Linked DNA regions of Homo sapiens: all the other regions are reported to be linked to region 2. Evidence: microRNA targets listed by miRTarBase, many of them from high-throughput screens and not tested one by one. Region 2 holds a microRNA gene; each other region holds the end of a gene's coding sequence.
Evidence for each region. The annotated mature microRNA hsa-miR-4537 reads UGAGCCGAGCUGAGCUUAGCUG and lies in region 2 at 1,099-1,120, shown strand. An mRNA with a match to its seed (bases 2 to 7 or 8) in the 3' UTR can be bound and repressed. Matches are read on the target gene's strand: a 7mer-m8 pairs with bases 2 to 8, a 7mer-A1 pairs with bases 2 to 7 and ends in A, and an 8mer does both.

Region 1: the mRNA of POP5 is a reported target of hsa-miR-4537. Seed matches in the 3' UTR shown: 8mer at 3,214-3,221.
Region 3: the mRNA of UQCC3 is a reported target of hsa-miR-4537. Seed matches in the 3' UTR shown: 8mer at 685-692.
Region 4: miRTarBase lists CHST1 as a target of hsa-miR-4537. Seed matches in the 3' UTR shown: 8mer at 1,534-1,541.
Region 5: the mRNA of MARVELD2 is a reported target of hsa-miR-4537. Seed matches in the 3' UTR shown: 8mer at 414-421 and 8mer at 1,560-1,567.
Region 6: the mRNA of TMEM154 is a reported target of hsa-miR-4537. Seed matches in the 3' UTR shown: 8mer at 3,291-3,298.
Region 7: the mRNA of ETV7 is a reported target of hsa-miR-4537. The part of its 3' UTR that is shown has no 7-base or 8-base seed match.

The regions. Positions count from the first base shown.
Region 1 is chr12:120,575,649-120,579,711 of GRCh38, forward strand. POP5 (POP5 ribonuclease P/MRP subunit) reads right to left here. Exons shown (of 5, transcript NM_015918.4): 4 at 3,866-3,949; 5 at 3,116-3,764. The coding sequence ends at 3,670. RNF10 (ring finger protein 10) reads left to right here. Exons shown (of 17, transcript NM_014868.5): 15 at 1-40; 16 at 144-302; 17 at 942-1,940. The coding sequence ends at 1,018. Among named protein-coding and RNA genes, the nearest start is that of POP5, 3.7 kb to the right of the region's middle.
Region 2 is chr14:105,856,577-105,860,651 of GRCh38, reverse strand. MIR4537 (microRNA 4537) reads left to right here and starts at 1,099; the gene lies at 1,099-1,168. MIR4539 (microRNA 4539) reads left to right here and starts at 3,080; the gene lies at 3,080-3,139. MIR4507 (microRNA 4507) reads left to right here and starts at 2,477; the gene lies at 2,477-2,528. MIR4538 (microRNA 4538) reads left to right here and starts at 2,410; the gene lies at 2,410-2,487. It also overlaps IGH.
Region 3 is chr11:62,671,888-62,675,962 of GRCh38, forward strand. It overlaps UQCC3 (ubiquinol-cytochrome c reductase complex assembly factor 3), which reads left to right. Exons shown (of 2, transcript NM_001085372.3): 2 at 66-1,799. The coding sequence ends at 227. LBHD1 (LBH domain containing 1) reads right to left here and starts at 380. Exons shown (of 7, transcript NM_024099.5): 1 at 1-380. RefSeq lists enhancers at 1-693, 60-219 and a silencer at 460-589.
Region 4 is chr11:45,646,100-45,650,174 of GRCh38, reverse strand. CHST1 (carbohydrate sulfotransferase 1) reads left to right here. Exons shown (of 4, transcript NM_003654.6): 4 at 1-2,486. The coding sequence ends at 487. Among named protein-coding and RNA genes, the nearest start is that of CHST1, 17 kb to the left of the region's middle.
Region 5 is chr5:69,441,337-69,445,411 of GRCh38, forward strand. MARVELD2 (MARVEL domain containing 2) reads left to right here. Exons shown (of 7, transcript NM_001038603.3): 7 at 196-2,994. The coding sequence ends at 318. Among named protein-coding and RNA genes, the nearest start is that of MARVELD2, 28 kb to the left of the region's middle. RefSeq lists a silencer at 274-471.
Region 6 is chr4:152,624,850-152,628,924 of GRCh38, reverse strand. TMEM154 (transmembrane protein 154) reads left to right here. Exons shown (of 7, transcript NM_152680.3): 7 at 364-4,075. The coding sequence ends at 379. Among named protein-coding and RNA genes, the nearest start is that of TMEM154, 53 kb to the left of the region's middle.
Region 7 is chr6:36,362,864-36,366,863 of GRCh38, reverse strand. ETV7 (ETS variant transcription factor 7) reads left to right here. Exons shown (of 8, transcript NM_016135.4): 8 at 102-670. The coding sequence ends at 219. Among named protein-coding and RNA genes, the nearest start is that of ETV7-AS1, 22 kb to the left of the region's middle. RefSeq lists an enhancer at 1,450-1,499.

The sequences.
Region 1 (4,063 bases), not on the chromosome of region 2:
GCAAAAGCAGATGTGTGGCCCAAAACTGCTCCAAAGAAAGGTGAGGATGGTCCACTGGTGAAGGGGGAGTTTGGCTTCTTTCCATAAAAGGCTGTTTCTAGAAAAAGAGTTGTTTCTATAGTTTTAACACTGGTATTTTTTAGATGAGAACAGCTTAGTTCCTCCTGCCCCTGTGGACAGCGACGGGGAGAGTGATAATTCAGACCGTGTTCCTGTGCCCAGTTTTCAAAATTCCTTCAGCCAAGCTATTGAAGCAGCCTTCATGAAACTGGACACACCAGCTACTTCAGATCCCCTCTCTGGTAAGGGCAGAGGCTGGAGTGCCCAGGGTTGTCAAACATACTACACATGTACTGCCATTCCCGCCTGGATTCAGTGGCAGACATCACTAATTAGGCTCTTTCCCTTCTGAACCCTTCAGCACACTCTAGTGTCATTTAAATAATACTCCATTTGGTATGTCAGATAGGACCTATTTGCCACCCCAGAGAAATTGATGACGCCTGAAAGTGAAATTCTGAGGAACTCTTCCAAGATACAGTGGGGTGTACAACCTGTATCCTTTAGAATCTTGAGTTGGTACAGGGTGGCTAATTAGATGGAGAAGTCAGTCTCGAAGCCTGTTGCACTCTGTTCATGACTAGACAAGAATCACATATGTATGGCGTGCTATGTGCCTAGCACTGTGCTAATTCTCCCAACAACCACGTTAAATGGGTGTACCTCACGTTACAGATGGGGAAACTGAGGTCCAGGGAGGTAAAAGTGATTTGCCCAAAGACACCCACTTGGTGTATACCAAGACTGGTATTGGCATCTAGGCAGTCTAATTCCAGAGCCTCCACTCTTAGCTCCCACTCTGTGACTCTCAGTAATGAAAACTGGCCAGGGGACAAGGGATGGCATTTTAAGTTAAGCTGTCTTTCTGTGTCTCCCTTTAGAAGAGAAAGGAGGAAAGAAAAGAAAAAAACAGAAACAGAAGCTCCTGTTCAGCACCTCAGTCGTCCACACCAAGTGACACTACTGGCCCAGGCTACCTTCTCCATCTGGTTTTTGTTTTTGTTTTTTTTTCCCCCATGCTTTTGTTTGGCTGCTGTAATTTTTAAGTATTTGAGTTTGAACAGATTAGCTCTGGGGGGAGGGGGTTTCCACAATGTGAGGGGGAACCAAGAAAATTTTAAATACAGTGTATTTTCCAGCTTCCTGTCTTTACACCAAAATAAAGTATTGACACAAGAGATCTCTTCCTGCCAAGGTTTTTAGTTCATTGCCAGTTTAGTCTTTTTGACCCATGTGTAATTAATTTTTCTCAACCCAAAGTAAGATTGAGTCCCCTTTGAGATGCATTAGAGCAGTCCAACCCAGAATGGCACACACTGCTCTGCTGTAGCATCATGTCAGGGCTTCCTGGACTCAGTACACCTCTCAGTTTGTCTTTTAAAAAACAGCTGAATCTTTACTACCTATTTAGTTCTCCTTGTTAAAGAAACAGGGGTGGGAATAAAATGGATTTAGGACACCCAGTTTGAATTGCAGTTTTTTTTTTTCTGACACATGGCCAGGCTGTGGTGCCAGCTTAATGGAGTAGGCTGTCCTTGGCACTTGCATGTGTGAAAGGAGGGTTTTGCCTCTTCTTGAGCATGGCTTGAGTTGGTAAGGAAAGCTGTAACTCACGAAGCCCTGAGACCTGCTACCCCTAAGATCGAGCTTGTTTTCAGTGACTGGCTTGAGTCATAGGAGGAGGAGTCTGGTACAGCTGCAGGAGAGCAGGGCCATCTGAAGCGGTAGCATTGCCACCATCTCCCTCTCATCTAGAGCAGTTTTCTTATGCCTTGGTTTGAGCTGAATTTGATGTGAATTCTTTTGCTGCTTAATAAAGTGACCTCTAGGTGCATTAGAATGCGAAGGCAAATAGTTGCAATAAATCACCTGCACAAGCATTGTGAGCTTTTTGTTTTTTTAAGTTCATTACAGGTAAGCTAGACAAGTTATTTCTTGAATAGGTTAACGTGACAGCTACTATGATATTGTAGGCTGTCTTTTCTGGTGTCAGGTTTAAATGGTTCTAGAGCTGGGCTTAGCTTTAACCTGCCATTTTAAAAGAAATCCTATCAGGAAATTTCCTGGATGGATGAGGGTGTTCTGGCCTCCAGATGAGGGGGCATGTTGAAGCCAGAATCACCAGTGTTTCTGTTAAATGTGTATGGTACTTTCAGTCTCATCCATTGTATTATGGAGAAAACAGATCCCAGAAATGTCAGTAGGTAGCAGATCAAACCTGGATCACAAGTCTCCCGCCATTCCTACTTCCTGTGAGTATGGCAGTCTGACTTGTCTTCAGGGCGCCTTGTATTCAGGCGCAATAAGAGCGGAACTACAAAAACTACCTTAAGTTCCTTAAGTGGACAGCTGCTACATGACCATGCAGTAATGATGTCAGATGAGGCCAGCACCCGCGCCCCCCCCAACTGCAAAGGTTGCATTTTTTGTTTGAGACAGAGTCTCGCTCTAGCCCAGGCTGCAGTACAGTAGTGGGATCTCAGCTCACTGCAAGCTCTGCCTCCCGGGTTCACGCCATTCTCCTGCCTCAGCCTCCTGAGTACCTGAGATTACAGGCACCCACCACCATGCCCAGCTAATTTTTTGTATTTTTAGTGGAGACAGGGTTTCACTGCGTTAGACGGGATGGTCTTGATCTCCTGACCTTGTGATCTGGCCGCCTCAGCCTCCCAAAGTGCTGGGATTACAGGTGTGAGCCACTGCGCCCGGCCCAAAGTTGTATTTTTTAAGTTACCTGATTAACTATTGGCAAGGAATCTGGTATCTGTAAGACCCTGTGGTTCAGTACTGAGATGGGCTGTAGATCTCTGCCAGTTCAGTTGCTGTGTCTCAACTAATATTTCTATTCCAAATGACTTGGCTTGCTTAGGGCCCATCATGGGGCCGGGGGTACAAAGCTTCAGGTAGAAGGCTAAGTATTGAAAATTTAGGCCAGGCACAGTGGCTCACCCTTTAATCCCAGCACTTTTGGAGGCCAAGGTAGGCCGATCACTTGAGGCCAGGAGTTCAACAGCAGCCTGGCCAACATGGCAAAACCCCGTCTCTACTAAAAATACAAAAATTAGCCAGACGTGGTGGTGCACGTCTGTAATCCCAGTTACTTGGAAGGCTGAGGTGGGAGAATTGCTTGAACCCAGGAGGCGGAGGTTGCAGTGAGCCGATACTGGGCCACTACACTCCAGCCTGGGTGATAGACTGAGACTGTCTCAAAAAAAAAAGTTTAACTAGTACCACATAGGGAGTCAGTCTTCCCACCAAGGCTAGGGATAGAGAGAGAACAGAGACTTGGCCAAGCATGGACTCCATAAGCCCTTTCTGTAATATAAGTATGCTAAATGCCACGGAAACCAGATACATTTATTAAATCTACTCTTAGCCAAGCAATAAAGATGTCTACAGAGTTCACAACCTGCAACACTTCACCAGGGAATGCTAGGTAAAGGCAACTTCAGTTTAACTGAGTACTCCATTTCAAGTGGGTAATGTCTGCTGGTTGGCAGCTATCCAGTTTGGAAAACTGTGGAAGATGCTGTTGCTACCCAGATTGTTCTGTTCAACAAGTGGGCCTGAAGCCTGAGCAGTGTAGCCAGCTGTGTGGGGAGCAGAGGTTCACTCCATTGCTTCTGCAGCCTCCTCACCTGACTCCTCCTCCTCCTCTAATAAGCAGCTTCTTGTCACAGACTTCTGGATAGCTTCCCGCTCTCCTGGAGAAGGCAGATAACAGGGATGAAAGATATCTTTGGGAGTGATTTCTTCAGCTTAAGGTCAGTCACTGCTCAGTGGGCACTGGGCTAGTGTTGCTTACCTTCATCAGTGCAGTTCTGCAACAAGATCAACAGCTGTCTCCTGTTGTACTGAATTAGGAACTTCTGACATGTTCTTATTGTACCTGGCATATGAGTTACTGTGGTCAACAGCTTGTGAAAGATCTCGACCTTACAGACTTTCAGAGGTAGGGGGAAGTGTCTTGTTAGCGGGACAGCAGCAAGACCCACCCACCAGT
Region 2 (4,075 bases):
GGAGGGTGGTAATGATTGGTAATGCTTTGGAACCAAAACCCAGGTGGCGCTGGGGCAGGACTGCAGGGAACTGGGGTATCAAGTAGAGGGAGACAAAAGATGGAAGCCAGCCTGGCTGTGCAGGAACCCGGCAATGAGATGGCTTTAGCTGAGACAAGCAGGTCTGGTGGGCTGACCATTTCTGGCCATGACAACTCCATCCAGCTTTCAGAAATGGACTCAGATGGGCAAAACTGACCTAAGCTGACCTAGACTAAACAAGGCTGAACTGGGCTGAGCTGAGCTGAACTGGGCTGAGTTGAACTGGGTTGAGCTGAGCTGAGCTGAGCTGGGCTAAGTTGCACCAGGTGAGCTGAGCTGAGCTGGGCTTGGCTGCACTAAGCTGGGCTGAGCTGGGCTGAGCTGGGCAGGGCTGGGCTGAGCTGAGCTGGGCTGGGCTGAGCTGGGCTGGGCTGGGCTGGGCTGAGCGGGTCTGAGCGGGGCTGAGCTGAGCTAGGCTGGGCTGGGCTGAGCTGGGCTGAGCTGGGCTGAGCTGGGCTGAGCAAGGCTAGGCTGAGCTGGGCTGAGCTGAGCTGGGCTGAGCAAGGCTAGGCTGAGCTGAGCTGAGCTGGGCTGCGCTGAGCTGGGCTGGGCTGCGCTGAGCTGGGCTGGGCTGAGCTGGGCTAGGCTGGGCTGAGCTGGGCTGAGCTAGGCTGGGCTGGGCTGGGCTGAGCGGGGCTGAGCGGGGCTGAGCTGAGCTAGGCTGGGCTGAGCGGGGCTGAGCTGAGCTAGGCTGGGCTGGGCTGGGCTGAGCCAAGCTGAACCGGGTTGAGCGTGCTGTGCTGGGCTGAGCCAAGCTAGGCTGAGCTGAGCCAAGTTGAGCTTAGCTGGGCTGAGCTAACCTGGGCAGGGCTGAGCTGGGCTGAGCTAACCTGGACTGGGGCTGAGCTAACCTGGGCAGAGCTGAGCTGGGCTGAGCTAACCTGGGCTGGGGCTGAGCTAACCTGGGCTGGGCTCAGCTGAGCTGAGCTACGCTGGGCTGGGCTGGGCTGAGCCGAGCTGAACTGGGCTGAGCAGGCTGTGTCGGGCTGAGCCAAGCTGGGCCGAGCTCAGCAGAGCTGAGCCGAGCTGAGCTTAGCTGGGCTGAGCTAACCAGGGCTGGGCTGAGCTGGGCTGAGCTGAGCTGAGCTGAACTGGGCTGAACGGGCTGAGGCGAGCAGGGCCGAGCTGAGCAGAGCTAAGCCGAGGCTGGGCTGGGCTAACCTGGGCTGGGCCGAGCTGAGCAGAGCTAAGCCGAGGCTGGGCTGGGCTAACCTGGGCTGGGCTGAGCTGAGCTGGGTTGGGCAGGGCTGGGCTGGGCTGAGCTAAGCTGAACTAGGGTGAGCTGGGCCGAGCCAGGCTGGTTTGGGCTGAGTTGAGCTGACCTGGACTGGGGCTGAGCTAACCTGGGCTGGGCTCAGCTGAGCTGAGCTACGCTGGGCTGGGCTGGGCTGAGCCGAGCTGAACTGGGCTGAGCAGGTTGTATCAGGCTAAGCCAAGCTGGGCCAAGCTCAGCAGAGCCGAGCCGAGCTGAGCTTAGCTGGGCTGAGCTAACCAGGGCTGGGCTGAGCTGGGCTGAGCTGAGCTGAGCTGAACTGGGCTGAACGGGCTGAGGCGAGCAGGGCCGAGCTGAGCAGAGCTAAGCCGAGGCTGGGCTGGGCTAACCTGGGCTGGGCTGAGCTGAGCTGGGTTGGGCAAGGCTGGGCTGGGTTGAGTTGGGCTGAGCTAAGCTGAGCTAGGGTGAGCTGGGCTGAGCCAGGCTGGATTGGGCTGAGTTGAGCTGACCTCAACTGAGCTGACCTAGGCTGAGCTGAGCTGAGCTGAAGTAGGCTGTGCTGGGCTGAGCTGGGATGACCTGGGCTGGGCTGAGCTGATTTGGGCTGGGTTGAGCAGACCTGGGCTGAGCCGGGTTGAGCTGAGCTGAACCAGGATGAGCTGGGCTGAGCTGAGCTGGGCTGGGTGGTCCAGGCTGGGCTGACCTGGACCAGGCTGGGCCAGGTTGAGCTGGGCTAAGCCGAGCTGAGCTGAGCTGAGCTGGGATGATCTGGGCTGGGCTGGGCTGGGCTGAGCTGACCTGGGCTGGGCTGGGCTGAGCTGAGCTGAGCTGAGTTAAGCTGAGCTGAGCTGAACTGGGCTGTGCTGAGCTAGGCTGGGCTGGGCTGAGCTGGGCTGGGCTGGGCTGAGCCAGATTGTGCCTGGCTGAACTGAGCTGGGCTAAGCTGAGCTGGGCTGAGCTGGGCTGAGCTGAGCTGGGCTGAGTGGGGCGGGGCTGAGCTGAGCCGGACTGGGCTGGGCTGGGCTCAGCTGAGCTGAGCTGAACTGGGCTGGGCTGAACTGGGCTGGGCTGAGCTGAGCTGAACTGGGCTGGGCTGAACTGGGCTGGGCTGAGCTGAGCTTGGATGAGCTGGGCTGAACTGGGCTGGGTTGAGCTGGGCTGGGCTGAGTTGAGCCAGACTGATCTGGGCTGAGCCGAGCTGGGTTAAGCCGAGCTGGGTTGGGCTGGGCTGGGTTGGGCTGGGCTGAGCCGGACTGGGTTGGGCTGAGCTGAGCTGGACTGGGCTGAGCTGAGCTGGTCTGGGCTGGCTGAGCTGAGCTGTGTTGAGCCAAGCTAGGCTGGGCTGGGCTGAGCTGGGCTGAACTGGGCTGAGCGGAGCTGAGCTGAGCTGGGCTGGGTTGAGCAGAGCTGGGGGCTGAGCTGGGCTGGGCTGGGCTGAGTTAAGCTGGGCTGACCTGGGCTGAGTTAAGCTGGGCTGACCTGGGCTGAGCTAAGCTGGGTTGAGCCGATCCGGGCTGGGCTGGGCTGGGCTGAGCCAGGCTAGGTTGAGCTGGGCTGGGCTGGGCTCTGCTGTGCTGTGCTGAACAGGGCTGAGCTGAACTGAGCTGAGCTGGGCTGAGCTGGGCTCTGCTGTGCTGTGCTGAGCAGGGCTGAGCTGAACTGTGCTGAGCTGGGTTGAGCTAAGCTAGGCTGGGCTGGGCTGAGCTGGGATGAGCTGGGCTGGGCTGGGCTGGGCTCTGCTGTGCTGTGCTGAACAGGGCTGAGCTGAACTGAGCTGAGCTGGGCTGAGCTGAGCTCTGCTGTGCTGTGCTGAGCAGGGCTGAGCTGAACTGGGCTGAGCTGGGCTGAGCCGGGCTGAGTTGAGCAGAGCTGGGTTGAGCAGAGCTGGGCTGGGCTGGGCTGAGTTGAGCCAGGCTGACCTGGGCTGAGCCAAGCTGGGTTGAGCCAAACTGGGCTGGGCTGGGCTGAGCCAGGCTGGATTGAGCTGGGCTGGGCTGGGCTAAGCTGGGCTGTGCTGCACTGAGCTGGGCTGAGCTGGGTTGAACTGTGCTGAGCTGAGCTGGGCTGTGCTGAACTATGCTTAGCTGGGCTGGGCTATACTGGGCTTAGCTGGGCTGGGCTAAACTGGGCTTAGCTGGGCTGGGCTATACTGGGCTTAGCTGGGCTGGGCTATACTGGGCTTAGCTGGGCTGGGCTATACTGGGCTTAGCTGGGCTGGGCTGAGCTGAGATGGTCTTAGGTGGTCTGAGCTCAGCTAGGCTGGGCTGAGCTGGTCTGAGCTCATCTGAGTTGGGCTGAGCTGAGCTTGGCTTTGCTGAGCTGGGGTGGGGTGGGCTGGGCTGGATTGAGCTGGCCTGGGCTGGGATGAACTGGATTGAGCTGGCCTGGGCTGGGATGAACTGGAGGACATGGCACTGGGCCAATCTTCATGATCTTGTTGGACATAGATGGATAGCCTCAGCTGAGTCTACACTGCGTTCCCCATCACACTCACCCTCCCTATACTCACTCCCAGGCCTGGGTTGTCTGCCTGGGGAGACTTCAGGGTAGCTGGAGTGTGACTGAGCTGGGGGCAGCAGAAGCTGGGCTGGAGGGACTCTATTGGCTGCCTGCGGGGTGTGTGGCTCCAGGCTTCACATTCAGGTATGCAACCTGGGCCCTCCAGCTGCATGTGCTGGGAGCTGAGTGTGTGCAGCACCTACGTGCTGATGCCTCGGGGGAAAGCAGGCCTGGTCCACCCAAACCTGAGCCCTCAGCCATTCTGAGCAGGGAGCCAGGGGC
Region 3 (4,075 bases), not on the chromosome of region 2:
AGGAAGGGTGGGCGGGTGGAGAGCCCCGGACTGGAGCTCCTGCGAACTCCCCTTCCTGCCCTCAGGAGATGCCACTGCAGGACCCAAGGAGCAGGGAGGAGGCGGCCAGGACCCAGCAGCTATTGCTGGCCACTCTGCAGGAGGCAGCGACCACGCAGGAGAACGTGGCCTGGAGGAAGAACTGGATGGTTGGCGGCGAAGGCGGCGCCGGCGGGAGGTCACCGTGAGACCGGACTTGCCTCCGTGGGCGCCGGACCTTGGCTTGGGCGCAGGAATCCGAGGCAGCCTTTCTCCTTCGTGGGCCCAGCGGAGAGTCCGGACCGAGATACCATGCCAGGACTCTCCGGGGTCCTGTGAGCTGCCGTCGGGTGAGCACGTTTCCCCCAAACCCTGGACTGACTGCTTTAAGGTCCGCAAGGCGGGCCAGGGCCGAGACGCGAGTCGGATGTGGTGAACTGAAAGAACCAATAAAATCATGTTCCTCCACCCAGAATGAGCCCTGCAGTCGACACCTACCAATGCTTAGAGACGCGTGGTCGGTGCTGGGGGCGCGGCCTGGAGCTGCTGCCTGTCCCACCCCACCAGAAGAGGCTGATCCCGATAGGTATCTGACCACATTTTTTTTTTTTTTTTTTTTTTGAGACGGAGTCAATGTCACCCAGGCTGGAGTGCAGTGGCACGATCTCGGCTCACTGCAACCTCCGCCCCTGGGTTCCAGCAATTCTCCTGCCTCAGCTTCCCGAGTAGCCGGGATCACAAGTGCGCGCCACCAAGCCCAGCTAACTTTTGTGTTTTTAGTTGAGACAGGGTTCACCATGTTGGCTAGACTGGTCTCGAACTCCAGACCCAGGTGATCCGCCCGCCTCGGCCTCCCAAAGGGCTGGGATTACAGGCGTGAACCACCTCGCCCTGCCGCGGCCACATTTTTTCTTTTTTTTGAGATGGAGTCTTGCTCTTGTCACCCAGGCAGGAGTGCAGTGGCGCAATCTTGGCTCACTGCAACCTCTGCCTCCTGGGTTCAAGCTGTTCTCCTTACTCAGCCTCCCATGTAGCTGGGATTACAGGCGTCCGCAACCACGCCCGGCTGATATTAGTAGTTTTAGTAGAGGCGGGTTTCACCATGTGGCCAGGCTGATCTCGAACTCCTGACCTCAGGCAGTTCACCCGTCTCAGCCTCCCAAAGTGCTGGGATTAGAGGCGTGAGCCACTGCGCCCGGCCAACCACATTTTCAAAACAGGTCATGTGGTGTCAGGTTGGAGTGTACTTCCAGGGATAACCGTGGGACATTCTTGAAATCTGAACTATCCTGGGAAGTCTTGAAGTAATGGATGCCTATAGTGGACACTCAGGACTCCTGTCCTTGGAGCGAGATTGGAGGGGCATCTAGCACTTAACATATGCCACAATGCTTTCTGTGGCCATTATTTAACCTCTGGTTAAACAAGCTTAGGAGGCTGACTTACTAGTAGTAAAAGGAGTGTGCTTTGAGTCACAGATCCTGGTTGAACTCCAGCATGTTACAAACCTCAGCCCTGTTCTATGAAAGGTCATAACTACGAGGATTATTGTAAAACATTAATTTAGAAATGTAAAGTGGTCCCCAATCTCTGGATCTGGTCAGGATTTATTGGAGCTGCCACTGAGGGGATTAAATAAGTGGGGTCAAAGCCCCACAGCCTAGTCAACCAAGTTGCTCCTCTTTTGTCTATCCTGTGGTTCCCAAGCAAGACTGCAATTGAAAAAAAGGCTGCTGTTATTAAAGTCAGAACACCAAATAAAGCTTTTTTTTTTTTTTTGAGACAGAATTTCTGTGTTGTTGCCCACGCTGGAGTGCAATGGAGCGATCTCAACTCAATGCAACCTCCGCCTCCTGGGTTCAAGCGATTCTCCTGCCTCAGCCTCTCCAGTAGCTGGGACTACAGGGGTGCGCCACTATGCCAGGATAATCTTTGTATTTTTAGTAGATACAGGGTTTCACCATGTTGGCCAGGCTGGTCTTGAACTCCTGACCTCAGGTGATCTGCCCGCCTCAACCTCCCAAAGTGCTGGGATTACAAGCATGACCCGCCGTGCCTGGCCCAAATAAAGCTTTCTAACACTGGGGTGTAAACCCAGATATAAGTATTGGTGCTCTTTTCAGCTGCTGGAACACATGTTACATGTGATCTTTACAGAGTAACTGTGGCCTTTCTCCTAGTCCAGGAAGGAGTGGAGTCAGGAGCAGTTTGACAGGACAGCAGGGTGGGGTGATCAGCAGCCAGAGGGACTATCATAGATAAGCTCATCAGTGCTTCTTGGTTGGTTTTAAAAAGCAGAGAGAAGCGCCAACATGGTGAGACCCTGTATCTACTAAAAATACAAAAATTAGCTGGGCATGGCGGCACGTGCCTGTGGTCCCAGCTACTCGGGAGGCTGAGGCAGGAGAATCGCTTGAACTCAGGAGGCAGAGGTTACGGTGAGCCGAGATCGTGCCACTGCACTCCAGCCTGGGTAACAGAGTGAGGAGATGTCTCAAAAAAAAAAAACAAAAAAACAAAACCCTTTTAGCCCAGCATTTTGGGAGGCTGAGACAGGTGGATCTTGAGGTCAGGAGTTCAAGACCAGCCTGGCCAACATGGTGAAACCCCATCTCTACTAAAAAATACAAAGAATTAGCTGGGTGTGGTGGCACACACCTGCAATCCCAGCTACTCGAGAGGCTGAGGCAGAATTGCTTGAACCCGGCAGACGTTGGTTATAATGAGCCGAGATTGCACCACTGTACTACAGCCTGGGATCTAGAGCAAGACTCCACCTCAAATAAGTAAATAAAATTATCCTTTTAGTAGCTAATGCTTACTGGGGACTTATTAGGTACCAGGCACTATGCTAAAGCATCTTATACCAGCATTATGTAACCCTCATGACAATCCCAAGAAATAGGCACTATTCCTATTCTATTAAGAAGCTAGGTTTTCTGGGTGAGATGTGAAATAACTTAAATGACATCACTAAGGTAGCAAAGCTGAAGGAAAAGTATAAGAAGGATGTTCCTGACTATAAGTAGAAAGGTTGGTTTGATGATGCAAAGGGTCCTGCTAAAGTTGCCTGGAAAAAGGTGGAAGAGGAAGATGAAGAGGAGGAGGATGAATAAAGAAACTGTTTATCTGGCCAGGCACAGTGGCTCAAGACTGTAATCCCAGCACTTTGGGAGGCAGAGGCGGGCGGATCATCTGAGGTCAGGAGTTCAAGACCAACCTGACCAACAAGGTGAAACCCTGTCTCTTAAAAAAAAAAAAAAAAAAAAATTAGCTGGGCGTGGTGGTGCATGCCTGTAACCCCACCTACTCAGGAGGCTAAGGCAGGAGAATCGCTTGAACCCGGGAGGTGGAGGTTGCAGTGAGCTGAGATCGCTCCATTGCACTCCAGCCTGGGCAACAAAAGCAAAACTCCATCTCAAAGGAAAAAAAAAAAGAAACTGTTTATCTGCCTCCTTGTGAGTACCTTAAGAGTAGGGGAGCCCCGTAATGGACACATCTCTTATTTGAGAAGTGCCTGTTGTCCTCATTAGGTTTAATTACAAAATTTGATCATGATATTGTATAGTCTCTCAAAGTACTCTAAAAATTGTCAGTGGTGGCCGGGCGTGGTGGCTCACGCCTGTAATCCTAGCACTTTGGGAGGCCGAGGCGGGTGGATCACTTGAGGTCAGGAGTTTGAAACCAGCTTGGCCATCATGGTGAAACGCTGACTCTACTAAAAATACAAAAAATTAGCTGGGCATGGTGGTGCGCGCCTGTAATCCCAGATACTTGGGAGGCTGAGGCAGAAGAATCCCGTGAACTCAGGAGGCGGAGGTTGCAGTGAGCCAATACTGTGCCACTGCACTCCAGCTTGGGTGACAGAGCAAGACTCCATTTCAAAAAAAAAAAAAAAAAAGAAATTCTCAGTGGTTTACATGAAGTGGCCATGGGTGTCTGGAGCACCCCAAAGCTGTATCAAAGTTGTGCATATTTCCAAACATTTTTAAAATGAAAAGGCACTCTCATGTTCTCAATAAATAAATAAATAAATAAATAAATAAAGCAGCAGGCC
Region 4 (4,075 bases), not on the chromosome of region 2:
GTACCGGCTCTGGCGGCTCTGGTACGGCACCGGGAGGAAACCCTACAACCTGGACGTGACGCAGCTGACCACGGTGTGCGAGGACTTCTCCAACTCCGTGTCCACCGGCCTCATGCGGCCCCCGTGGCTCAAGGGCAAGTACATGTTGGTGCGCTACGAGGACCTGGCTCGGAACCCTATGAAGAAGACCGAGGAGATCTACGGGTTCCTGGGCATCCCGCTGGACAGCCACGTGGCCCGCTGGATCCAGAACAACACGCGGGGCGACCCCACCCTGGGCAAGCACAAATACGGCACCGTGCGAAACTCGGCGGCCACGGCCGAGAAGTGGCGCTTCCGCCTCTCCTACGACATCGTGGCCTTTGCCCAGAACGCCTGCCAGCAGGTGCTGGCCCAGCTGGGCTACAAGATCGCCGCCTCGGAGGAGGAGCTGAAGAACCCCTCGGTCAGCCTGGTGGAGGAGCGGGACTTCCGCCCCTTCTCGTGACCCGGGCGGTGCGGGTGGGGGCGGGAGGCGCAAGGTGTCGGTTTTGATAAAATGGACCGTTTTTAACTGTTGCCTTATTAACCCCTCCCTCTCCCACCTCATCTTCGTGTCCTTCCTGCCCCCAGCTCACCCCACTCCCTTCTGCCCCTTTTTTGTCTCTGAAATTTGCACTACGTCTTGGACGGGAATCACTGGGGCAGAGGGCGCCTGAAGTAGGGTCCCGCCCCCCCCCCCCCCATTCAGACACATGGATGTTGGGTCTCTGTGCGGACGGTGACAATGTTTACAAGCACCACATTTACACATCCACACACGCACACGGGCACTCGCGAGGCGACTTCTCAAGCTTTTGAATGGGTGAGTGGTCGGGTATCTAGTTTTTGCACTGTCTTACTATTCAAGGTAAGAGGATACAAACAAGAGGACCACTTGTCTCTAATTTATGAATGGTGTCCATCCTTTCCCCATCCCTGCCTCCTGCCCCTGACGCCCATTTCCCCCCTTAGAGCAGCGAAACTGCCCCCTCCTGCCCGCCCTTGCCTGTCGGTGAGGCAGGTTTTTACTGTGAGGTGAACGTGGACCTGTTTCTGTTTCCAGTCTGTGGTGATGCTGTCTGTCTGTCTGAGTCTCGTGGCCGCCCCTGGACCAGTGATGACTGATGAATCTTATGAGCTTCTGATTGATCTCGGGGTCCATCTGTGATATTTCTTTGTGCCAAAAAGAAAAAAAAAGAGTGGATCAGTTTGCTAAATGAACATTGAAATTGAAATGCTTTATCTGTGTTTTCTGTAAATAAAAGAGTGCAATAATCTCTGTGTGTGATTGCAGGACATTCTGAATGGGTACGAGAGGGCCTCAGCCGGGTCTGGGTGTTCCTAGCTTTGGGGAGGACAGCGAGAGAGAGGTGGAGGTGGGAATTAAATGACAAGTCTGCCTTTCAGAACTCTTGTCACCCTCAACACTGAGTTTAGTTTAGGTTTTTGTTTTGTTTTGTTTTGAGACAGAGTCTCGCTCTGTCACCCAGGCTGGAGTGCAATGGCGCCATCTCGGCTCACTGCAACCTCTGCCTCCCAGGTTCAAGCAGTTCTCCCGCCTCAGCCTCCCGAGTGACTGGGACTACAGGTGCACACTGCCACACCTGGCTATTTTTTTTTTTTTTTGGATTTTAGTAGAGACGGGGTTTCACCGTGTTGTCCAGGCTGGTCGCGAACTCCTGAGCTCTGGGCATTCCTCCTGCCTCAGCCTCCCAAAGTGCTGGGATTGCAGACTTGAGCCACCTCACCCAGCCGTTTTTTTTTTCCTTCAGTCAGTTGAGACCGGGTAACTTATAGCCAGGGATAATGTTCAAAGTCTTTAACAAGTGGTATGGCTTGCTGAATCAGAGTAGCTGGAGGTAAGAATGACATCCTGGAATCCCTTCTTGTGCTAAATGTTACCCATTTAGTTGGTGGGTCTGGGTCTAGGATAGCCAGGGAGGGGGAAACTTCAAGGGGTGGGGTGCCTCAGGGCAGTGGCTGCTGACCCACAGACCTGGAAGTATTTGACTATTTGAATAACTGGTACAGGTTTACTGGTGTCTACACTGGCAGAGAATCTGCTGTGCTTCCTCCCCTTCCCTTCGTGGCAATCTAGCAGGTTGCTCCAGGCAGCTTCCCCAGCTCTTATTCCAAGAAAACCTGCCCCTGGGGTGGCTGCAGGTCACAGCTTTGTTGTCCTGGGACAAAGGAGTGTCTGGTGATTAGGCAGCCCCAGGGGTCCTAGCCAACTGGAAGAAGGGCTTCCTGAGGAAACACAGTCCTGGGCTATTTTATATGTGTCAGGAGGATGTAGACAGTTCAACAGCTCTAGCAAATGCCTTAACTAATAGTGGCTTAATCAAGATAGGTGATTTTCTTTTGTAAAAAATTTTACTGGGGTAAAATAACAGAATGTAAAATTTACCATCTTAACCTTTTTAAGGTGTACCATTCATTAAATACATTCACAACGTGTGCCACCATCCAGCTCTGTAATTTTGCTCATTTTGTAAAACTGAAACTCTGTACCCATTAAACAAAAACTCCCCACCTACCCACCCACTTCCAGTGCCTGGAAACCACCATTCTGCTTTCTGTCTCTAGGAATTTGACTACTCTAGTACCTCATGTAAGTGGAACCATACAGTATTTGTCCTTTTATGACTGGCTCATCTCACTTAGCGTGATGTCCTCAAGGTTCATCCATGTTGCAGCATATGTCAAAATCTCCTTTCTTCTTAAGGCTGAGTAATATTCTACTGTATGGACATACCATATTTTGCTTATCCGTTCATCCCTAGATGAACACTTGGGTTGCTTCCATGTCTTAGCTACTGTCAGTAATGCTGCTGTGAACATGGGTGTACAACTGTCTCTTGAGACCCTTCTTTCCATTTTTGGGCATATCCCCAGAAATTGAATTGCTGGATCATGTGGCAGTTTTATTTTTAATCATTTGAGGAACTGCCATACTATTTTCCACAGTAGGTGAACCATTGTACATTCCCACCAACACGGCCCAAGGGTTTCAATTTTTCCACAACCTCACCAATTCTTGTTATTTTCTTTCTCTTTTTGAAAGTTAGCCATCCTAATGGGTGTGAGGTGGTCAGATAGTTTATTTTCCTTCACTCTCATTTAAAAGGCATAAGCTGTTCAGGTCTGGTATGGTGGCTCCCAGGTCATGTGCCCAGATTTCAGGGTCCTGCCTCTTTCTATGTTGTTGCTCCATCTTTCTAAGGTGTTCCCCATGGCTATGTGGTCCTAGATGGCTTGCTAGGCAGCAGGAAGGAGAAAAACAGGAAAGGATGCTACACCTCTGCCATGTATGAGCACAACCTTAAAATTATAGACATCACTTTCACTCATGTCTAATTGGCTACAGCCTGGCCACATGGCCATTCTTAGCTGCAATGGAGGCTGGGAAATGTAGTCTTTTATCTGGGTGGCCATAACTGTTAAGGTGGCTGATGAGTCCAAAGCTGATCTCCCTGAGATTCAGTTTCTCTTCTGCACAAGACAGGCAGGCTAATTTACACTGTCATTCTTTAAGACCAGGCAGCTGACTTGGAAAAGCCTCTGTCAGGACTGGTGGCCAGGTCCTGGGTCTCTTCTCAGCCTGTGATCCACAGGAGCTGCTTCTCCAGGGTGCGATGAGGAAGTTGACTCATCAGTTGGCTTCATGGCATCAGTGCCCAGATAGGCCTCACTCAGTGCCCCTGGCTGGCTGTTCCAATACCCAGGGAAAGCCTGCTCCAATGGCCACAGCTGGCTGACCCTTCCCCTCTTATAGTAAGTGATGCTGGGACAATTGTCTTCACCTCTGACTGCTCTGTGGTGGATTGTCCCTGAGCCAGAGACTTCTTTCCTCTGGGTAGGTGGCTTCAGGTTGGAAGTGGGAGACACTGGAGATCTTGGCCTTGCTGGAGAGAAACTCTCCCCTCAACTGCCGTAACAGAAGACTTTAATAAAGCTGGCTGGAGCTTTCAGAGGAAAGCCCTGTCTAGTGATGGATTCATTCATTCATTCATTCATTCATTCATTCATTCATTCAAGTATGTGCAGGCACTGG
Region 5 (4,075 bases), not on the chromosome of region 2:
GCTGTGAACCTAAAACTGCTCTAAAAAAAAAAGTACATTTAAAAAATATGTAGAGAGCTTAACTGTTACCCTGAGTTCAGAATCTGCTGTAGAGACTTTTGCTATGTATGATCATTTCCTGGGTGACAATGTATGTTTCTGTGTTTTTCACTGAGGAAGCCAGGAGCCAAAATAATACTTATATTTCTTTTACAGGATCCTACATTTCTGGAAAAAAAAGAACGCTGTGATTACCTAAAGAATAAACTTTCTCACATAAAGCAAAGAATTCAAGAATATGATAAAGTAATGAATTGGGATGTACAAGGTTATTCTTAACGCTTATTTGAAACCACTTTATTTTTTTATTTTATTTTATTTTTTTGAGATGAAGTCTCGCTCTGTTACCCAGGCTGGAATGCAGTGGCACAATCTCGGCTCACTGCAACCTCCACCTCCCGGGTTCAAGCAATTCTCCTGTTCAAGCAATTAGCCTCCCCAGTAGCTGGGATTACAGGCGTGCGCTGCCACACCCCGCTAATTTTTGTATTTTTAGTAGAGACGAGGTTTCACCATGTTGGTCAGGCTGGGAAACTACTTTTTTTAAAAAATAGCAAGTTTACTATTTATTTACTGCCTTTTTAATGCTAGCCTCTGTGGTAGAGAAGCAAGCGCTTCCCAAATCAGCTTCCAATTGGTTTAACCAGTATGCAACATTAAAGATTTTACTCAGACATTTTTAAACGAATTCAAATGTTCTAAGGGCCTTTACTAAGAATGGAAAAAATCCTGTGTTCATCTTTCATCTGTGACCAATTTCATATTCATCTATCTCATTTAAATGTGTCATCATTTTAGAGATCGTATCCTGGCAGTGTGATGGGCAAGTGGACCATCAATTCTGGTGCTACTTTTTCCTTTTTTACTCAGGCAGGTTCCTAGGATTTTTCTGGGACAAATTTCTCTTCCTAGAGAAATTCCTAGGGGATTTCTAAAGGATTTTTCTAAGGGAAAAAGGGTGACATCTTTCAAAGGTGTCATTTATTCCCTTGAAAGGTGTTTGAATCCCAGATCAACATTTTCAGACATCCTGATCTTGGGCAAATTGCTTAATCTCTCTGTGCCTGTTTCCTCTTCTGTAAAATGGGGCTAATAATAGTTCCTTCCTCATAGAGTTGTTAGGATTAAAGGAGTTACTAATATGGTAGGAACTATATTAGTGTTTGTGAAGTCTACTGAAGTGTTTGTGAAATGAATAAATTATAAAGAATGAGTCTCAAGAAAAGGTCCTTAATGAGCAAGCCCAACCTACTTAACCAAAAGCCCAAGTGTCTGGTGCCTTTCTGGTTTGTGGTGTTAACTCATGGCCTTAGCCTGGTGCTTCACTGTGGCTCTGTGGCCCCTGGGGTTCCACATGGCCTCCCTGTCTTTCATCAGTGTGACTGTACATCTCTCCATCTCCCCATAGTCCAGCCTGCCCTGGACACATTGAATTGTATGAATGGTATTGCTTTTTTTTTTTTTTTTTTGTGAGACAGAGTCTTACTCTGTTGCCCAGACTGGAGTGCAGTGGTGCGATCTCGGCTCACTGCAAGCTCCGCCTCCCAAGTTCACGTCATTTTCCTGCCTCAGCCTCCCGAGTAGCTGGGACTACAGGCACCTGCCACCACGCCCAGCTAATTTTTTTGTATTTTTAGTAGAGATGGGGTTTCACCGTGTTAGCCAGGATGATCTCGATCTCCTGACCTCATGATCCACCCGCCTCAGCCTCCCAAAGTGTTGGGATTACAGGCGTGAGTCACCGCGCCCAGCTGGTATTGCTTTTCTATTCCCTTTGGACATACATGCTACAGTCCCACAATGTAGCATTTCCTTGGAAACTCCCTTTTTTTTTTTTTTTGAGATGGAGTTTCGCTCTTGTTGCCCAGGCTGGAGTACAGTGGTATGATCTTGGCTCACTGCAGCCTCTGCCTCCTGGGTTCAAGCGATTCTCCTGCCTCTGCCTCCCAAGTAGCTGGGATTACAGGCACCCACCACCATGCCCAGCTAATTTTTTGTATTTTTAGTAGAGACAGGATTTCACTATGTTGGCCAGGTTGGTCTCAAGCTCCTGACCTCAGATGATCTACCAGCCTCGGCCTTCTGAAGTGCTGGGATTCAGGTGTGAGCCACTGTGCCCAGCAGGGATGCTTCATCTTTCTAAGAATTATCTTGGCTTTGGACTTTATTCATAAATGTTTTATTTCTGTTAGTATGAACAATAGACTGCCTTAACAAAGTTTTTTTTTAAACAAAATCGTTCTTGTTGGATTTTATTCAGCAGCATCTATCATGTAGATAAATTCCCAGGTGTAGCATTACAGCTTCTGACTAATATAGCTGCCATTCAGACAATTAATGTTCAAAGAGTTTTCTAAAGTGATAAAACCAAAGAAAAGCATGTGGAAAAGCAGAAGCTTAGAAAGTTGTGGTCACTGAATGCACTCCCTGGTTTTTATTTGTCAGTGAAATCTTTATGCATTCATTGTTAATATTTTAATTCCATGGCTTTGTAGGCTGTGCTGTGTCTGAAGGGGTAACACCTAGGGAAACATGAGGCCCCTTATGGGACCCCCCAAATGGAACAACTTCACTTTCTCTTTTATGTATTGAGCCCTGTGTTAACATTTCACTTAAGAAGAGCACCAGTGCTTTAAAAAAAAAAAAAGGTAAAATATTACCATTTTGATAGACTGTAAAGAGTTAGATTCCTGTTGAAGTGTTAAGGAAATTTAACTTTGTGAAACTTTTAAAATAAAGTTTATAAATGTAGCTAATCTTTGAAAAACCAATGCAGTAACACTGATTTGTAAATGTTGTGGTCAATCCCTAGGTGCATTAAAGTTTCAGTCACCTGCCGTGTGTGTGTGTGCCCTTTTATGTTTGCCTTCCTAGCATTCCTGTGTTCACTGTGCATGTTCTTGAAAATATTTTCACTTGTCAGAAAATAAACTGGAAAGTCATTGAAAACCCGTAGGTCACGATGCTCAGGTGACTCACTGTTTCTCCTTCCCCCATTATTCGCAATAATTCAAAGTCCAGGCCACTATATTAGTTTCCTAGGACTGCCATGACAATGTACTACAAACTGAGTGGCTCAAAACAACTGAAGTGTGTTGTCTCACAGACCTGCAGCCTAGAAGTCTGGAAGCAGGGTGTCAGCTGGGACATGCTCCCTCAAAAACCTGTAGGGGAGTCCTCTTCTAGTTTCTGGTGGTTTGCTGGCCATGTTTGATGTTCCTTGGCTTGTAGATGCATCTCTCCAATCCTCCATTCTCGCATGGCCTTCTCCCTGTCTGGCCATACCAGTCATATTGGATGAGAGGCCCACCTTCTCCAGCATGACCTCCTGTGAACTCATTACATTTGCTAGGACGCTATTTCCAAGTAAAGTCACGTTCTGAGGTACTGGAGGTTAGGAACTTCAGTGTTATCTTTTTGAGAGGCCACAGTTTAGCCTGTAATAGCTACATTTGGCAAGTTACAAGATTCAGAAGGAAAAGTACTTCCCTGTACATTTTCTTTCTTCCATATTATTTTTTCTTTTATTTTTTGTGATGGAGACTCACTCTGTCGCCCAGGCTGGAGTGCAGTAGTGTGATTGGCTCACTGCAACCTCTGCCTCCTGGGTTCAAGCTAGTCTCCTGCCTCAGCCTCCCAAGTAGCTGGGATTACAGGCACTCACCACCACACCCAGCTAAATTCTATATTTTTAGTAGAGACAGGGTTTCATCTTATGTTGGCCAGGCTGTTCTCGAACTCCTGACCTCAAGTGATCTGCCCGCCTCGGCCTCCCAAAGCAATTCCCCTGCCTCAGCCTTCCAAAGTGCTGGGATTACAGGTGTGAACCACTGCACCCAGCCCTTCCATATTATTTCAACATGTATTCTAATTTGAAAATTAATATGAGGATATGTCAGTATATCTAAAACTTGAAAAAAGTATATGCCAGTTATATGTCAAATGCTTTTATTGTCCCAGATATGTTAGCATTAAAGATACTGAAATCAGTGAAACAGGTAGAGACTTTGGGGGTGGTAATGAAGTACATATTTCT
Region 6 (4,075 bases), not on the chromosome of region 2:
ACCTGTAATTCCAGCACTTTGGGAGGTCAAGGTGGGCAGATCACAAGGTCAGGAGATCGAGACCATCCTGGCTAACATGGTGAAACCCCGCCTCTACTAAAAAAAAAAAAAATACAAAAAATTAGCCAGGCTTGGTGGTGGGTGCCTGTAGTCCCAGCTACTCAGGAGGCTGAGGCAGGAGAATGACCTGAACCTGGGAGGTGGAGCTTGCAGTGGGCCGAGATTGTGCCACTGCGCTCCAGCCTGGGCGACGGAGCCAGACTCCGTCTCAAAAAAAAAAAAAAAAGAAAGAAATATATTACTGTTTTGTGTGTGTGTGTGTGTTTTTTTTGTTTTTTTTTTTTTTTTTTTTTTTTTTTACAGTGACAGTGAATCCTAAACCTGAATGGCGCTCATGTTTTCCAAGAGAAGCAGCCCCTGAGGGAGTCTGCTGAGGCTGCCAACAGAGGATGAAGAGGATACAAATTTAATTAATTTCAAATCAACATAGACACAAGAACCTTTTGCTGTTTCTTCCAACGCCCACTCTTCCTAATGATGGCATCACTTGCACTTGGAAGAATGTGCAATTGAGAAGTACTAGGAAAAGGCCTGGCTGCCATCCATCGCTGCCTCTGAGGGTGGAGAAGGAGGCGGGTGATGTGCTCACTTCTGATCAACATGTGTTGCCTCCTCTCAGCCAACTTCTAGCTCACTGAACTCACTCTGGTCATGATAAATGTTCGTCACCTTTCTGCTTCATTCCTTAGGGCCTAAATCAGGAAGCTGTTTTATCGATGGTTTCCTTTTGGGTCAGTAACCAGCTTTGGATAATTTCCTCTGATTATTCAAGTCGTGGGACAGGTAAACTACATTCAGCAGGAACTTTTCTCGAGGAGTGTTATGTCATGGAAAAGACACCAAACACAGCAAGTATTTTAATGAATACACCATCCCAGGGGGTCAGTAAGCTCTGCCTGCCAAGAAGACACAGTGAGAGGGGTCCACAGTCCTGATGAGGTGGCGTTTGGTAACTTGTAGACCCTAGCATGGCCAGGTCTGGTCACCCTTAAGAACTTCTCAGAGAAACTAGGAATCTTCAGTGAAAGAACTAATGTTCTCCTCAGCTGAAATTCCCTTGCTTGTCAGCATTTCTGCAAAGCTCACACTTGTTTCACCATACCTCCCTTGGATGTGACATGTAGGTAGGAAGTATGTGCAGGTGGGAGTCATCTGTCAGCCTTCTATGTTTCAGAGATCCTGAAGGTGGTTTGAAACAAACAGAAGAGGAGCAGGAAATATCCGTGCCTGTGGCAGATCTCACTCATCATGCTTAGCATTCTCTCCCGCCAAGCTGGGATAAGCCTCATGTCCTAACACAGCACAACAGGAGGTCTCTGTCAGTCCATCAGAGATGACATTCTATGTGATATTTTTGACATCCTTGTGCTAAAAGCAATGGCACAAAATGGAAAAGGGCCTATTGACCACACCTACTCCAGTAAAATTGTTCTTCATTTATTCCTTAATTTTCTAAATCTGACCCCTTTAAAGCAATCTAGCAAATTGAGAATCCTCAGCTCTCCTTGGATACCTGATATTTTATTTCAAGAAAGAGACAAAGAAGGAAAATTTTATTTATTTTACTACCCACATATAAACCGAAGGGAGATGGGACTACCCAAACATTTGCTGCTCAATTTTGTGTCTTGTGCTTGAAAGTCTGCCCTAATGCATAACAAAAACTACTTGTCTCCTACCTTTTGGGATCCCTTTAACAAGTATTTGCCTTCTGAACTACGTGGATAATTTCAAAGGCAGAGTTCCAGACCAGAGAGGTCTTTCCATACAATGAAAGCTATAACTAGCTGGTTGTGTTTAACCACTGCTATCACGCTATCCTGGGACTGCATAGAACTTTGACAAAAGACAGACTTCATGGTACACAACTTCAACAGATTTTCTGTCATATTCTCACCAGCACATCTGAATGAGGCTTTGTGTTTTCCTTGCTCTCTTGCATGTTCCTTTTCAACTCATGGCCCACAGTGACTCTCAGATATTTATGCCAAAATTGCATACAATTGTTTTCTGAATCATAACTTGTCTATTTTTCTGCCTATGTGTGCTACTTTCAGTTTGTTTCTCATCAACATTTTGACTCTCAGAAGAGCCTCCATTTGCCCCTTTCTCTCTTTAGGTATCTAAGATCTTTGAACACCTGGGCCTTTACATTTGATCCAACCCTATCAAATAATGAACTTCTCAGAGAGGCATCTGGGGTCCTGGAACTTCATGTTGATGAAGTCATATTATATAATATGATAAAAATATTCTCATGCAGTATTTTAAATAATTTCAAATTCTAGAAGAAGCAAATTTCAGCGACATGTCATTGAGTTTTTATTTGGTAAAGCTATAATTGTGCAGTGTACAAAGCACTTTTTAAAAAGATAGTTTATTCTGTCAGGGTATATGAAGTTAGTATACAGCCAGAACAGCCAAGCCTCAATTCTTGTACCTTGTGTCTTTTTATTACTGTTTAATCAATAGATATCATATGTTTATGACAGTTTCAAGAATTGTTTTTAAACCCAAACTTAATTTTATGTTTCAGACTATTGTTAAAAAAACAAAACAAAAACCAAAAAAACCCTCACTAATTTGCCCTAATTGGATAGGGCAATCAGAACAAAATCTGACTTTCGAATATTTAAAAGATATGTAAGTTTGATTGCATTTTCGTACATTTTAAGCAAACTAGGTTAACAACAACATAGCCTAGTCAAACTTCTCAGGAAACTTGTTTTAATAAATATGTAAAAATACCCATTCATGACTCTTGACCCAATGGTGTGACTCCTCCCTCTGGGAAGGGCTTTGTTACCCAATGCAAGACCACAGCCTGGATCCACCTTGATGTAGGTGGCTCCTGGATAACCCACATCAAACAAATGTGATAAAGATGAGTAAAACTGGTCTTGGGAAAATAATTTCATAGTTTTTTTTTCTCCTAGTTATGCTGTATAATACAGGAGAACCAAAAGCTGTAAAATTATTTTATTTTATTTTTTAAAGACAGGGTCTCACTATGTTGCCCAGGCTGGTTTCAAACTCCTGGGCTCAAGCAGTCCTCCTGTCTCAGCCTCCCAAAGTGCTGGGATTACAGGCATGAGCCACTGAGCCCGACCAGCTGTAAAATTATTATATTCATTTTCACTATGTGCTACTTCTTCTCACCTGACTTTTTTTTTTTTTTTTTGAGATGGAGTCTCACTCTGTCACCCAGGTTAGAGTGCAGTGTCACGATCTCGGCTCACTGCAACCTCCGCCTCCCAGGTTCAAGCAATTCTCTTGCCTCAGCCTCCCAAGCAACTGAGATTACAGGCCTGTGTCACTATGCCCAGCTAATTTTTGTATTTTTAGTAGAGATGGGGTTTTCACCATGTTGGTCAGGCTGGTCTCAAACTCCTGACCTCAAGTGATCCACCAGCCTCGGCCTCCCAAAGTGCTGGATTACAATTGTGAGCCACTGTGTCTGGCCACACACTGACTTTCACTGTAATATCTGGATGTTTTATGTAACATATCTGGGCAATAGGGCTTATGGCAGAATTGGCCCTCGTGGTGTAGGCCTTCCAAGTTCCAAGTCTCATTTTTAGTATTCCTCCGTTCCAACCCCTGGATCCACCAGTTCCAACAGCCTGGATCCACCTTGATATTGACAGCCAGGCAGATGCTTCTGCTGATCACCGCAGCTCTAGCAATGGAAATGGATATGTTAAGAAAATACTTGTCTATTCTTTTATTTTGGTGGTTTAAACTATTAATTCACACCATCTCTGAAAAAAGGCCTTATGTTGACTAAAGAAAACATAGGCTTTAGTTTCAGCTTCTGTCAGAATTAGTACCAATTCTGAATCTGGTGGAGTGATAAGACATGGTTTCATGCTGGGAAGACACTGCTGAAATCCTCCTTGTGGGAGAACATGGAAATTTTATACTGAATTAAATTAACGCATGTGACTTTTCACATTCAGAGACATTCAGGATGAATTCTGGGGTTTCCATTTAATAGCTATAACAGGCAGTCCAG
Region 7 (4,000 bases), not on the chromosome of region 2:
AGGGGATGTGGTGAAAGGGGAAGCAGAACTGGGGTTGGGTGGGCTGGAATCCCCCTGCAGCTGGGGCAGGAGCTGATTTGCAGTTGGGGCCTGAATTCTAGATTTCTAAAGACTCCGGGAAAGATGGTCCAGGACAAGCACAGCCACCTGGAGCCGCTGGAGAGCCAGGAGCAGGACAGAATAGAGTTCAAGGACAAGAGGCCAGAAATCTCTCCGTGAGGGGCAGGTGGACTCCAGGCACCCGGTACCGATGGGGCAGGGACCGAGTCTCCCATGAAGGCAGACTCCTCCTCCCAGCAGAGCAGCAGGATCCCCAGCCAGACTCTGTACCCACAGGATTACAGCCATTGCTTGGGAAGGCTGGGAGGCCTCCCATCCAGGACACTGGGGGCAGGAGTGTCATCTTTTGGGCAGGGCAATCCTGGGGCTAAATGAGGTACAGGGGAATGGACTCTCCCCTACTGCACCCCTGGGAGAGGAAGCCAGGCACCGATAGAGCACCCAGCCCCACCCCTGTAAATGGAATTTACCAGATGAAGGGAATGAAGTCCCTCACTGAGCCTCAGATTTCCTCACCTGTGAAATGGGCTGAGGCAGGAAATGGGAAAAAGTGTTAGTGCTTCCAGGCGGCACTGACAGCCTCAGTAACAATAAAAACAATGGTAGCTGATGTTTCTTTCTTTTATTTTTTTGAGACAGTCTTGCGCTGTCACCCAGGGTGGAGTGCAGTGGCACGATCTCGGCTCACTGCAACTTCCGCCTCCTGGGTTCAAGAGATTCTCGTGCCTCAGCCTCCGGAGTAGCTGGGATTACAGCTGCCCACCACCACACCCGGCTAATTTTTGTATTTTTGGTAGAGACACAGGGTTTCACCATGTTGGCCAGGCTGGTATCGAACTTGCGACCTCAGGTGATCCTCTTGCCTCAGTTTCCCAAAGTGCTTGGATTACAGGCGTGAGCCACTGCGTCCAGCCGATGTTTCTTAAGTGTTTGCTATGTGCCAGGCCTTGTGCTAAGGGCCTTGTGGATATCTTATCTCATTTAATTCACTCGGCATTCAGGCGTGAAGATGAGGACACTGAGGGAGAGGCTTGTGGAGCTGGCCCGCCTCTCCACAACCCAGGGCTTCGACCTGTTTTCTTTCAGCACCTCTGACTGTATGTGGATGCTTCTTAGCCAGGCCCCGGCCCCACCTCTCTGCTCTTGGCATCTTCACTGAATAGTCCATTTCACTTGGCCCAGCCCCCTCATCCTCAGTTTTCAGTGACTACGACCCAGTGAAGACTGGCCCCCGTCCCCACACTTGTGGCTTCCTATGCTCCTGTCCCTGTATCTGCTGTGGGACTTTGGGCAAGGTGTTCCGCCTCTCTGGGGCCTCAGGTTTCTCGTCTGCAAAATGGGGCTCCTTCTCCTGACCTGACCTCTGGGGTTGTCGGAAAGCTTCCATAAGGCAATACTTGTGAAATGCTTAATGTTTGCCTGCTCTGTGGGGCGTGCTTCACCTGTGTTAGCTGAGAAGACTTTGCAGACCAGAAGCTGCTCTGAAGCATGAAAACACCTCGGTCCAATGGGTCAGCTTCTCCCTCTGTGCCCTAGCCCCAAGTACTGATTGGGGCCTCCTGAGGGCCAGAGCCTCTGCCCTTGCAAGCCGTCAGGTAAAGCTCAGGTAGAAGGAGAAGGGAGTATTTTCATTTAACCAAGAATAGAACTCCTCGGATTCATATCTTCTTTCTCAGAAGGAGGAAACTACCTCAGCCTCTTGCCCCCAGCCGGTCAGGAAATCCCCGTCTCTGCTGGCGCCTGCACTGGCCTTGAGTCACTGCAGAGAAGTCCTTGATAAGGACTCTTGGACTTTGGGGCTCAAAGCTGTGATAGCCCATGAGCAGGGAAACTCCAGGCTTAGTCCTATCTGGGACCCTCGATGGTACTCACCGGCAGGGGGGCAGGCAGGTGGCTTTGGAAAAAGGATCGATGGGAAAATGCTTTGCCCCTTTCACTTTCCCTCTGAGACTGTTCCAGCTCCTTGACTTTGCTCTGCGATGAGCCCATGCCCCATGGCCTCTCTTATTGAGAGATGACAGCGTGCTGGCAGTCCTCACAGCCCTCGCTCGCTCTCGGCACCTCCTCTGCCTGGGCTCCCACTTTGGCGGCACTTGAGGAGCCCTTCATCCCACCGCTGCACTGTGGGAGCCCCTTTCTGGGCTGGCCAAGGCCAGAGCCGGCTCCCTCAGCTTGAAGGGAGGTGTGGAGGGAGAGGCACGAGCGGGAACTGGGGCTGTGCGCGGCGCTTGCGGGCCAGCTGAACTTTCGGGTGAGCGTGGGCTTGGCGGGTCCCGCACTCGGAGCAGCCGGCCGGCCCTGCCAGCCCCGGGCAATGAGGGACTTAGCACCCGGGCCAGCGGCTGCGGAGGGTGTACTGGGTCCCCCAGCAGTGCCAGCCCACCGGCGCTGCGCTCGATTTCTCACCGGGCCTTAGCTGCCTTCCTGCGGGGCAGGGCTGGGGACCTGCAGCCTGCCATGCCTGAGCCTCCCACCCGCTCCATGGGCTCCTGTGCGGCCTGAGCCTCCCCGACGAGCGCCACCCCCTGCTCCACAGCGCCCAGTCCCATCCACCACCCAAGGGCTGAGGAGTGCGGGCTCACGGCGCCGGACTGGCAGGCAGCTCCACCTGCAGCCCCAGTGCAGGATCCACTGGGTGAAGCCAGCTGGGCTCCTGAGTCTGGTGGGGAGGTGGAAAACCTTTATGTCTAGTTCAGGGATTGTAAATACACCAATCGGCACTCTGTATCTAGCTCAAGGTTTGTAAATACACCAATCAGCACCCTGTGTCTAGCTCAGGGTTTGTGAATGCACCAATCCACACTCTGTATCTAGCTGCTCTGGTGGGGCCTTGGAGAACCTTTATGTCTAGCTCAGGGATTGTAAATACACCAATCGGCACTCTGTATCTACCTCAAGGTTTGTAAATACACCAATCAGCACCCTGTGTCTAGCTCAGGGTTTGTGAATGCACCAATCGACACTCTGTATCTAGCTACTCTGGTGGGGCCTTGGAGAACCTTTGTGTCCACACTGTATCTAGCTAATCTGGTGGGGAGGTGGAGAACCTTTGTGTCTAGCTCAGGGATTGTAAACGCACCAATCAGCACCCTGTCAAAACAGACCACTGGGCTCTACCAATCAGCAGGATGTGGGTGGGGCCAGATAAGAGAATAAAAGCAGGCTGCCCCAGCTAGCAGTGGCAACCCGTTCTGGTCCCCTTTGACACCGTGGGAGCTTTGTTCTTTTGCTCTTTGGGTCCACGCTGCTTTTATTAGCTGTAACGCTTAGTGCGAAGATCTGCAGCTTCACTCCTGAAGCCAGCGAGCCCACGACCCCACCGGGAGGAATGAATGACTCCAGATGTGCTGCTTTAAGAGCTGTAACACTCACCGTGAAGGTCTGCAGCTTCACTCCTGGAGCCAGCGAGCCCATGAGCCCACGGGGAGGAACGAACGACTCCAGACGCGGTGCCTTAAGGGCTGTAACACTCACCGCGAAGGTCTGCAGCTTCACTCCTGAGCCAGCGAGACCACGAACCCACCAGAAGGAAGAAACTCTGAACACGTCGGAACATCAGAAAGAACAAACTCCAGATGCGCCACCTGAAGAGCTGTAAGACTCACCGCGAGGGTCCGCGGCTTCATTCTTGAAGTCAGTGAGACCAAGAACCCACCAGTTCTGGACACATTATCACCTCCTCACCCCAGAGCTGCATACCTGGCTTAGGAGGGACTGTCGAAATGAATTTATCCAGGCCCTCATTTTACAGAGAAGGGAACTGCCGCCAGAGCGAAGTGACTTGCGCAAGATCACATGGCCCAGCCCAGCTTCTTCGCTCCTGAAGCCACCTCATTTCCTCTTCTCAGCATTGTGGTTGGGTCCAAGATGAAGCAGGAGGATGGATTCCTAGATCACTTCTTCCAGTTATAAGTGGTGTTTGCCTGCTGGTGGGTTGATG